Regions from separate parts of the Homo sapiens genome. Here region 2 is linked to region 1. The links come from fine-mapping of genetic effects on gene expression. A gene starts in region 1. The other region holds a variant in brackets. All regions are shown on one strand. Distances are from middle to middle.

Evidence for each region. PIP is the estimated chance that this variant, and not a neighbour inherited with it, causes the effect.
Region 2: its variant is the best candidate, but not a certain one, in a credible set for the expression of NHIP in tibial artery (GTEx, PIP 0.86).

The regions. Positions count from the first base shown.
Region 1 is chr22:49,050,241-49,054,628 of GRCh38, reverse strand. NHIP (neuronal hypoxia inducible, placenta associated) reads left to right here and starts at 2,244. Exons shown (of 4, transcript NR_183584.1): 1 at 2,244-4,273. RefSeq lists an enhancer at 2,198-2,277.
Region 2 is chr22:49,030,038-49,034,425 of GRCh38, reverse strand. No RefSeq gene overlaps it. Among named protein-coding and RNA genes, the nearest start is that of NHIP, 20 kb to the left of the region's middle. The variant C/T (reference allele first, on the strand shown) is at 2,033.

The sequences.
Region 1 (4,388 bases):
AAGGAGAAAAACACGAATACAAAATCATGATGAGAGTGTTCGACACAACTATCAATCCTAAAGTGGCTACACAGACCCAAAATTAGTAGCGAAGGATTCTTGTCAAGATAATTAATAAGTTTTCTATAATAGCTGCTTCAAATCTGTGAACCTAAGAATCAAGCATTCATGAGACATTTAGAAAAATTCCAACAATTACTAAAAAAATAAGTATTTATGGACTACATTCTCTGAACTCCACATATCGAAATTAGAAATAATGAGAAAAACAGCCCCATAAATATGGAACCATAAAAACCTATTTCTGAAGGAATCGTAAATCAAGGAAGATTACAATCAAAATTTGAAAATATTTGAAACACAATGACCACATAAATGCTGCATATTGAGACTTCTGGAGTGAATGCAGAGAATGCTTCACCTAGGAAGGGTCAGCAAACTGTCTCTGTGGAGGGGCAGGTAGTAGTGTGCTTGAGGCCTATTGCAAAGCAGGTGACTAGCAAAACTGTCTTGTGGAGGGGCAGGTAGTAGCATGCTTGAGACCTACTGCAAAGCAGGTGACTCTGGTTAACAATAATGTGTTGTATATTTCAAAATAACTAAGAGAATCAATGGATATATTAATTGGCTTTAATTAATCACTCCATGTTTTGCACATACATCCAAATACCACATGGCATTTCACAAGTGCAGATGATGATCATTTCCCATTTAAAAATATTATTACTAATATTTTTTACAAACAAAAATAAAAATATATTTGGCTTTGTGGGATAGTCTCTGTTGCATCTCCTCTTCTCTGCTGGATTGGTCAGAAAGCGAACACAGGCAGTATGAAAATGAAGAGGTGTGGCTCTGTTCCCGTAAGCTACGGTTAGCAGAAATCCCTCATTTACATGAAAATGTGTCACCTTTAACATATGTAGGAAGTAAGAAAAACTTTAAAATAAAGCTTGACTTAAAACATCAGAGAATAACAGAATAAACCTAAAGAAGCTAATGAATAGAAAATCTATAATTATGTCCTTAAATTCATAAAAACAGACACCAAGAAATAACAGAGAGGACCACTGTCTTATTCTGTTTTCTGCTGCTGTAATGAAATGCCACCGGCTGGGTAATTTATAAAGAAATGAGATTTATTTCATTCGCAGTTCTGGAGACTACAAAGTCCAGGACAATGGTGCTGGCATCTGGCAAAGGTCATCCCATGGGAGAAGGATGGAGGGCAGGAGCCAGGGCCTGAGTCCGAGCAGGAGAGGCCAGGCTCACTTTAGAAACCCCACTCTTGAGGTAACAAACCCACTCTCTCGATAATGACATTAATCTGTTTATGAGGGTGGAAGCCTGATATGGTTTGGCCGTGTCCTCACCCAAATCTCATCTTGAATTGTAGCTCCCATAATCCCCATGTGTCATGGGAGGGAGCCAGTGGGAGGTAACTAAATCATGGGGGTGGTTTTCCCCCAGGCTATTCTGACAGTACTTTCTCACGAGATCTGATGGTGGTTTTTTTTTTTTTTTTTTTTTTTTTGAGATGGAGTCTCGCTCTGTTGCCCAGGCTGGAGTGCAGTGGCACGATCTCGGCTCACTGCAACCTCTGCCTTCTGGGTTCAAGCGATTCTTCTGCCTCAGCCTCCTGCCTGGACTGGTATAGACACAAATGTGCTAACACTGAGTCTGAAAACACTTCCTTGGATCTTGGATCTAAACTCTCACTGCTTCTCTTCTGATTATAAACCATTTCACAGCCCCCGGCAGTTCAGAAGGCCCTGAGCCCAGGCGGGAACTCAGACTGAATTGCGATGTCATTCAGGCATTAAAAGCACGCATGGGCTCAGAGTGCTGCTTGCTTGACGTTTCCCGTCTGTGAAGCAATTTTATTTAAATTCTACGCAAAATAGAACCCTTTGCTCTTCTTCCCAGAGTCCTGCCCGGTGGGAAGTTCGCTGGAGGCGCAGCAGGGAGCAGCCTGGCTTTTCCTACGGGGTCATTAGAAGCCTCGCTGGGAGAATTTCCCAAATATTTTGCTGTTTGCTCAAACACACTTTTATATTTTGAATCCAGGCATTTGAGAGAGAAATCTGTAGCGTCTGAAGCATGGGTCTGTGGTTCTCAGCGGAACACACGGTCCCAAAAGGCCCTTCCCAAGATGGCCGGGGCTTCCGCCTGCCGCCCTCCCTCCCGTGGTGCTGAGCGCAGGCTGGGCGCGGCCACATCACCCTAAGGGCGTGGGTGTCGGAGTCTTGCAGGCTGGGGTCCCAGGTGAGAGATGCCAGCAGGGAGCTCTAGATGGGGAACTGGGTGAGCCTGGCTCGGTAAGGGCGTGCTCAGAACACCCCATCCCCGAACACGGTCTTGTGTGATAAAATGTCACGCAAGAAGAATCTGAAACCGCGAGAAGAGGAGGACACGGCCAGACTGCACCGAACCCCGGCACCTCTGTGGGGAAAAGCAGGTCAGGCTGAGCGGGGCCGGCGGGGACACGCGCTCCTGGGCTTCTCCAGAGTCTGCCGGGGCCGGGCCCGGGACCGAGGCTGGGACGCGCTGTGCAGTCCCACCCCTCACACCCCTCGCACGCCTGGAAACACCCTCGGGGTAACACAAGCCGGGGTTGAGTTTCTTGAAGAGAAGCTGGCTGCATCCTGGAGCCAGGGAAAGAGGAGCACAGGGGCCAAGCGGTCCAGGGCCACGGAGGAGCAGGACCCCTGGGGAAAGGCCCGGGTCTAGGCCGGGGCCAGGGGACCGTGGTGGAGACCTCAAAAATGGCAGAACACGGAAGCAGGGCGAGAAAAGTAAACGTAGTCCTTGCGGCAGTTTGAAATACACGCGGGTAAACGCTGGGTGACTCCGCCCGGATGCAGAGTGGGGGTCTGTGTCTCTCCCCACAGGCTGCAGGGACCGGGCTCTGGGTAACCAGCAGAAGGTAACAGAACGAGGCTGCTTTTCCTCCAGGCTGTTCTGGTGTCCGCGCGTGGCTTGTGCGCTGACTCCTGACTTGGAGCGCCGCGTGGCCAGAGAAATCTGGGTGCCTCCAGGCCACCATGGTGAGAGGAGAGGCCACCGCACGAACGGAAGAAGCGATGGAGACGGTCTTTACGACCTAAGAACAGAAAGAGTTTCTTATACACAATCCGAAAAGTAAAAATTGATTGATTGATTGATTGAGATGGAATCCCACTCTGTCGTCCAGGTTAGAGTGCAATGGCTTGATCTCGGCTCATTGCAACCTCCGCCTCCCGGGTTCAAGCGATTCTCCTGCCTCAGTCTCCCGAGTAGCTGGGATTATAGGCGCCCGCCACCACGACTGGCTAATTTTTATATTTTTAGTAGAGACGCAGTTTCACCGTGTTGACCAGGCTGGTCTTGAACCCCTGACCTCAGGTGATCCGCCTGCCTCGGTCTCCCAAAGTGCTGGGATTACAGGCGTGAGCCACCGTGCTGGGCCAAAAATCAATTTTAAAACGACCACATGAAAAATAAATCTCCTGTATCACAGAGCATGTTCTGAGGAAAATGAAAGCCACAGATCCAGAAGATATTTGTGACACATATGAAAAACAAAAACTCATATTCAAAACATACACAGCATTGCTATGAATCATTAAGAAAAATGATTTCGTCTCCTCTACAGGAGCCTGAGTGAAGGACAAGGACAGATCATTATAAACCAGGGAGCTTGAAGAGCTAGTTAACAAGCACAGAAAATATGTTCCCCCACACTGTTAATCAAGAAAATTAAAACTGTAATGAGATGCCGCATTGTATCCATGGGATTTCTAAAAGTACAAAGTTCCACAATACCCGTTGTTGACGGAGCAGGGAAACCGCAGGAGCCTGCAGGAGATGAGATTGTAAATGTGCAAGGACATTTTGGAGAAGAGTTGACAACATCTCACTCACGTGTATCAAGCCAAGTGCCGAAAGAAGAATTGGTTGTCATAAAGAAAACAGAAACCCAGAATGGATGTAGCTTATCCCTCCGATGGAAAGTTACAAAGAAGTTAAAATGAATGGGCTGCATCTCTGTGTAACAATTTGGATCAATATCAAAGACACATTTGTTAAAGCAAGGTGTACAATGAAACCTGCAACATGATTTGTCTGTTTAGTAAAACACAGAAAATCTAACTCCGCCTGGCTTACGAACACACACATGTGTTAGAATTTGGGAAAAGGAAAGGGAGGGAGGCCGGCTACACGTGAACTTTTGGAAAATCTCAGAGGGTCTGGGGCACCAGGTGGAGACCATGGCAGCCTTCAGGGATATGAGGTGAGTCCTTCAACTACATTTGCAAGGTTTTATTTCTTAGGAAAATATTTAAAGCAAATATTTCAAAAATGACTAAATCTGAGTGGTAGGGAGTCACTGTTTTATAGATTATTCA
Region 2 (4,388 bases), 20 kb after region 1:
GATGGGGTTTCACCATGTTGGCCAGGATGGTCTCGATCTCTTGACCTCACGATCTGCCTTCCTTTGCCTCCCAAAGTGCTAGGATTACAGGCATGAGCCACCGCACCAGGCCATAGTTGTTTTCATTGTGATTTAAATGAAACTTCAAGCTCTTAATCCCATAGTCCTGTAACAGGATATCTGCGGTGAGGATGCTGCTCTCTGCCCCCTGCAAACTCTAGAACACCGTGAGGCCCCCACCTGCTTCCATGTGAGAGGAGCTGGAGGTGGAGGACGTCAACTGAGAAACGTCCCATTTTAGGATTTTATGCACATTTTGAAGTTAAGTACAGAATTGAGCTGAATGACAGCCAGACAGGGAAGCCACTCCTGGGCAGAAGGAAGCTGCAGACTGGAAATGGAGAACATTCCAGAAACTGGCAAGGCTGCCCTGGAGCAGGGCTGGGGGCATCTCACTCATGAATCTCACACCCACTACAGAAAGAAGTACCTCATGGAGCCACCAGCACTGAGGGCCCTAGGGCAAGGGTTGGGGACGGAAGGACTCCACCTGGCACGGTGGACTCAGAACAACGGCGTCTCAAGTAGGGTGTGTGCAGCTTGGAGCTGGAGCTCTTCCATGCCACCACTGACCTGGAGCTGGGCAGCTGCTGTCATGTGCAGCCTCACGATGCCTGTGTAACGCGGAGGCAGGAAGCATCACTCCTGTCTTTAGGAGCAAAGGAAGGAGCTCAGGGTGGGCACACGACCCACCCAGCATCGCAGAGCCCATGAGTGTCCTCTGAGACTGAAGATTTCAAAACTGGCCACGATGTCTCTGGGTCGGTGGTGGGCTCCTGTCTGTGAGATCCAGCATCTTACACTTCACACCCCAAGTTTCAGGGGAGAAGGGCGGAAAGAGATGCCTCTCTTAGGGAAACCAGGGAGAGAGGGGTGAAGACGGCCACCATCACCAAGTGTACTGCGTGTCCACCTATCCACATACGTCGACTAATTACCCCCAACTAAATACGGATTATTGCGTCTGTTCCACAGAAGATAAAACTAAGGACCAAAGAGGCTCCCCAAAGTCCCACGGCCCCCCAGAGGGTGCGGGCCGGGTGGGAATTTAAACTGGTCTTTCTGTCTCCAGGGCTGGAGCCAGGCTCTGAAGCTGCCTTGCCCCCTCCAACCTTGTTCCTTTTGGGAGTTGGTCTCCCTCCAAGCACGCTGATCTCTCCCCTCCTTTCAGGAGGCCAGTCCTACCAGCCCCCCGCACACAGCGGACTCGGTGCTGCCAGACCGCAGCACACAGACTCCCCAGAAATGTCTTTCCCAGGCCCAGATACTTGATTTCACCACGTGGCCCTCAGCGGAGGCTGCGTTCCTGCTCAGCCTCTGCCTTTTGGCTGCAGGGCAGCCTGGCGAGCGTGGTCTCCACCAAGCACTTCCCTGTACCTCAGCAGCCGACAGTGGCATTTGGGGACCTTGTTTCTGGGGAGCCTGTGGCAATGCGTCTCTCCTGTCTCAGGGACACACCAGCCGTCTTCCTCTGAGGCCCCTGGGGCAGGTCACACCGCTCAGTGGGTCCGCCCGGCAATGGCAAGTCTGTGTCCTCTGCCGGCCCGGGGTGTCTGATGTCCGGGAGAGGACTTGGGAGAAGAGTCTTTTGTTAGCAAAAGGTCACAGGGACGCTCACCTTTGCAGTGCACCAAGAAGACAAAGGCTGTCCTCGGCATCCGGAGCATCCGTATAATTCATGCCCACAGCAGGGATTGAGCCTTCTGAAAAATGCAAACTCACGGCTCCAAACTGCTGGCTGAGGATCATGGGATGAGGAGGCAGGGAGAGTTTACTGAGATTCCGGGCATTTTCTAAACTCCCTGCTCTGCAGTGCTGTGGGGGGACGCAGGATTCTCCTGCTCTGCTGGCAGGGGTGGCCCAGCTGTGCGTACCAGGAGCCCGGCAGCCTGCTCCATCTGCCTGCTCACTTGCTACGGGGCGTCCCCGGCCTCCCTGCCCCTGCTAACACGCTGCTGGTGGTCCCAGCACC[C/T]TCCGGCCTGGACTCACTTCCCTCCATGCCCGGCTCTCCAGGGGGCTCCTACGCACCCTCCCTGGCTCAGGTCCAGGGCAGAGACCCCAGTGAAGTCTCCAAGGTGGCCCTGCTTTCCCTCCTCCTTCAGAACTGCTCCCACCCGCCTGCAGGCCCCAGGCATCTTCTCCCATGGAGGCTACTGCTCTGCTCCACACCCACCCCGGCTCCCATATGCAAGCCCAGGGAAGCATCTGCCTAGGGATCAAGCTGAATCCACTGCCTATGTGTGGCATGGAGGCCCATGTGCCCACCCCTCTGATGGGCACTGCCAAGGGGTCCATGGAGAAGAGGCAGAGTCCCTGTCCAGGGCCCTAAGCCTTCATTGAGGGAAGAGGCCCCCGAGGCATCAGGCATCAAGGCAGCAGGCAGACCTACCCCCTCGGATGGCTGCATGGACACCAGGGCAGGGGGTGACTGGGGCCTCGAGGGCTGGAGCAGGGAAGGCTTCATGGAGGAGGGGGTATTTGGATACACCTTGGTGAATGGGGAAGAGTTGATGGGGAGAAAGGTAGAGGGAAGACAGGGAGGAAGGAAAAGTGGAGGGCATGACGGTGGGAAGGGCTGGGCATCCATGCTGACAGCTGGAGGGGGAAGGAGAAACATGGCTTTAGAATTGGGTGAGGGGCACCCTGACCCCACTCATCCCCCAGATGGCCACCCCTCTGGGGCTTCTGAGTCCAAGGGAATGTGTCTGTTTAATATTAATAGACATTTTCCATTTATTTCCAAAGAAAGGCTGCAAATCTAATTGTCACCATCAATGTCAGGAGCTCTTGTTGCCTTGTATTTCCCCTGACAATTATTTTAAGCATTGCCAATCAAATATGTGAAAGACAGCAAGTCAATCAGACACATAATTATTCATAAAAATGAGTTTGAACTTCTATCAACAGTTCCTCTTCTTTAAATTGCCTATTTACACCCCTCATTAATTTTGCATTTTGCTGTTAGAACGTGTCCTGTTTGTTTCTGTGCATGCCTTGCCTATGGTGGACATTTGACTTTGGGGTTTCTGAACTTGCTCCCGGGCCCTTCCTTCAGCAAGAGCCAGACCAGCCTCACTTTCAACACCTGTGAAGTTGTGGGGTGCTCGGACCTTGATTGCCTGTCTACCGCCTGTGATGACTGTATTCCCTGGGGTGTGTGTGACATTCATACACACCCATGTGCACACACATACATGTATGTGCACACACCAAAGGCATTGAATGCCTTGATGTCTAGGATGTGAATTTCAGAGAGCCTGGGCCAGCATTTCCGGGAAGGGTTGGCATCTGTGAAGATCACAGTTACAAACACACTTGAGAGGTCTCTTCTCAGCTGGCTTCTGAATTTTCATCTTCTCATGCTTTTAGTAACGGCACAGAGTAAGCATATTACACTAGCAAAGTGTGACTCTTAGGATGACTGGATATAAAACGACCAAAAAGAAACCATTTTTTTTTCTACACTAGCAGCAAACAGTTAGACATGGAACTGGATAATAATCTCCCATTCAAAAATGGCAGCATAAGCCATACACACTGCAGGGAACTAAATGAAAAAGGCACAGATCTCATAAGAAGAAAAATATGAAATGGTGCTGATAGCCTAAGAGAAAGACCTGAATGAATAGAAAGAAATTTGGGATTACTAGGAAAACTTGACACTATAAAAATATGATTTCTCTTCAGTATTTTATTACTTAATCTAACTATGAAAAGAAAGCAATCCCAAATAGAATCGGAGCGGAGTTTTCTTTGATATGGTACAGATAATGTTAAAATTCACCTAAAGGAACAGCCAGCTCTTTATCTGAAAATATTTTTTTAAAGAGCTAACAGTGAGGGGGCACTCACCTTATTAGATAAAAAGCTCAATACAGAGCAGCTTTGGCCCAGGGATCAATGACTAGATGCCTAGAACAAGTCATAGAAATATCTAGCTGGGTGTGGTGGCTCACACCTCTAGCACTTTGGGAGGCCAAGGCAGGAGGATCACTTGAGCCCAGGAGTTTCAGACCAGCCTGGGCAACATGGAGAAACCCTGTCTCCACAAAAAGTTAAATTATCCGGGTGTGGTGGTGTGTACCTGTAGTCCCAGCTACTCAGGAGGCTGAGGTGAGAGGATCTCTTGAGCCTGGGAGGTTGAGGCTACAGTGAGCCATCACTGCACCACACTGCTCCAGCCTGAGAGACAAAGCAAGACCCCGTCTAAGAGAAAATCTAGGTCCATTTTGTTATGGAAACTCAGCTAATTGTGGTTTCTTAATCTTATGGAGAAAGGATAATTTATTTTATTGGTATTAACCTAACTGACCACTTGGAATTAAAAA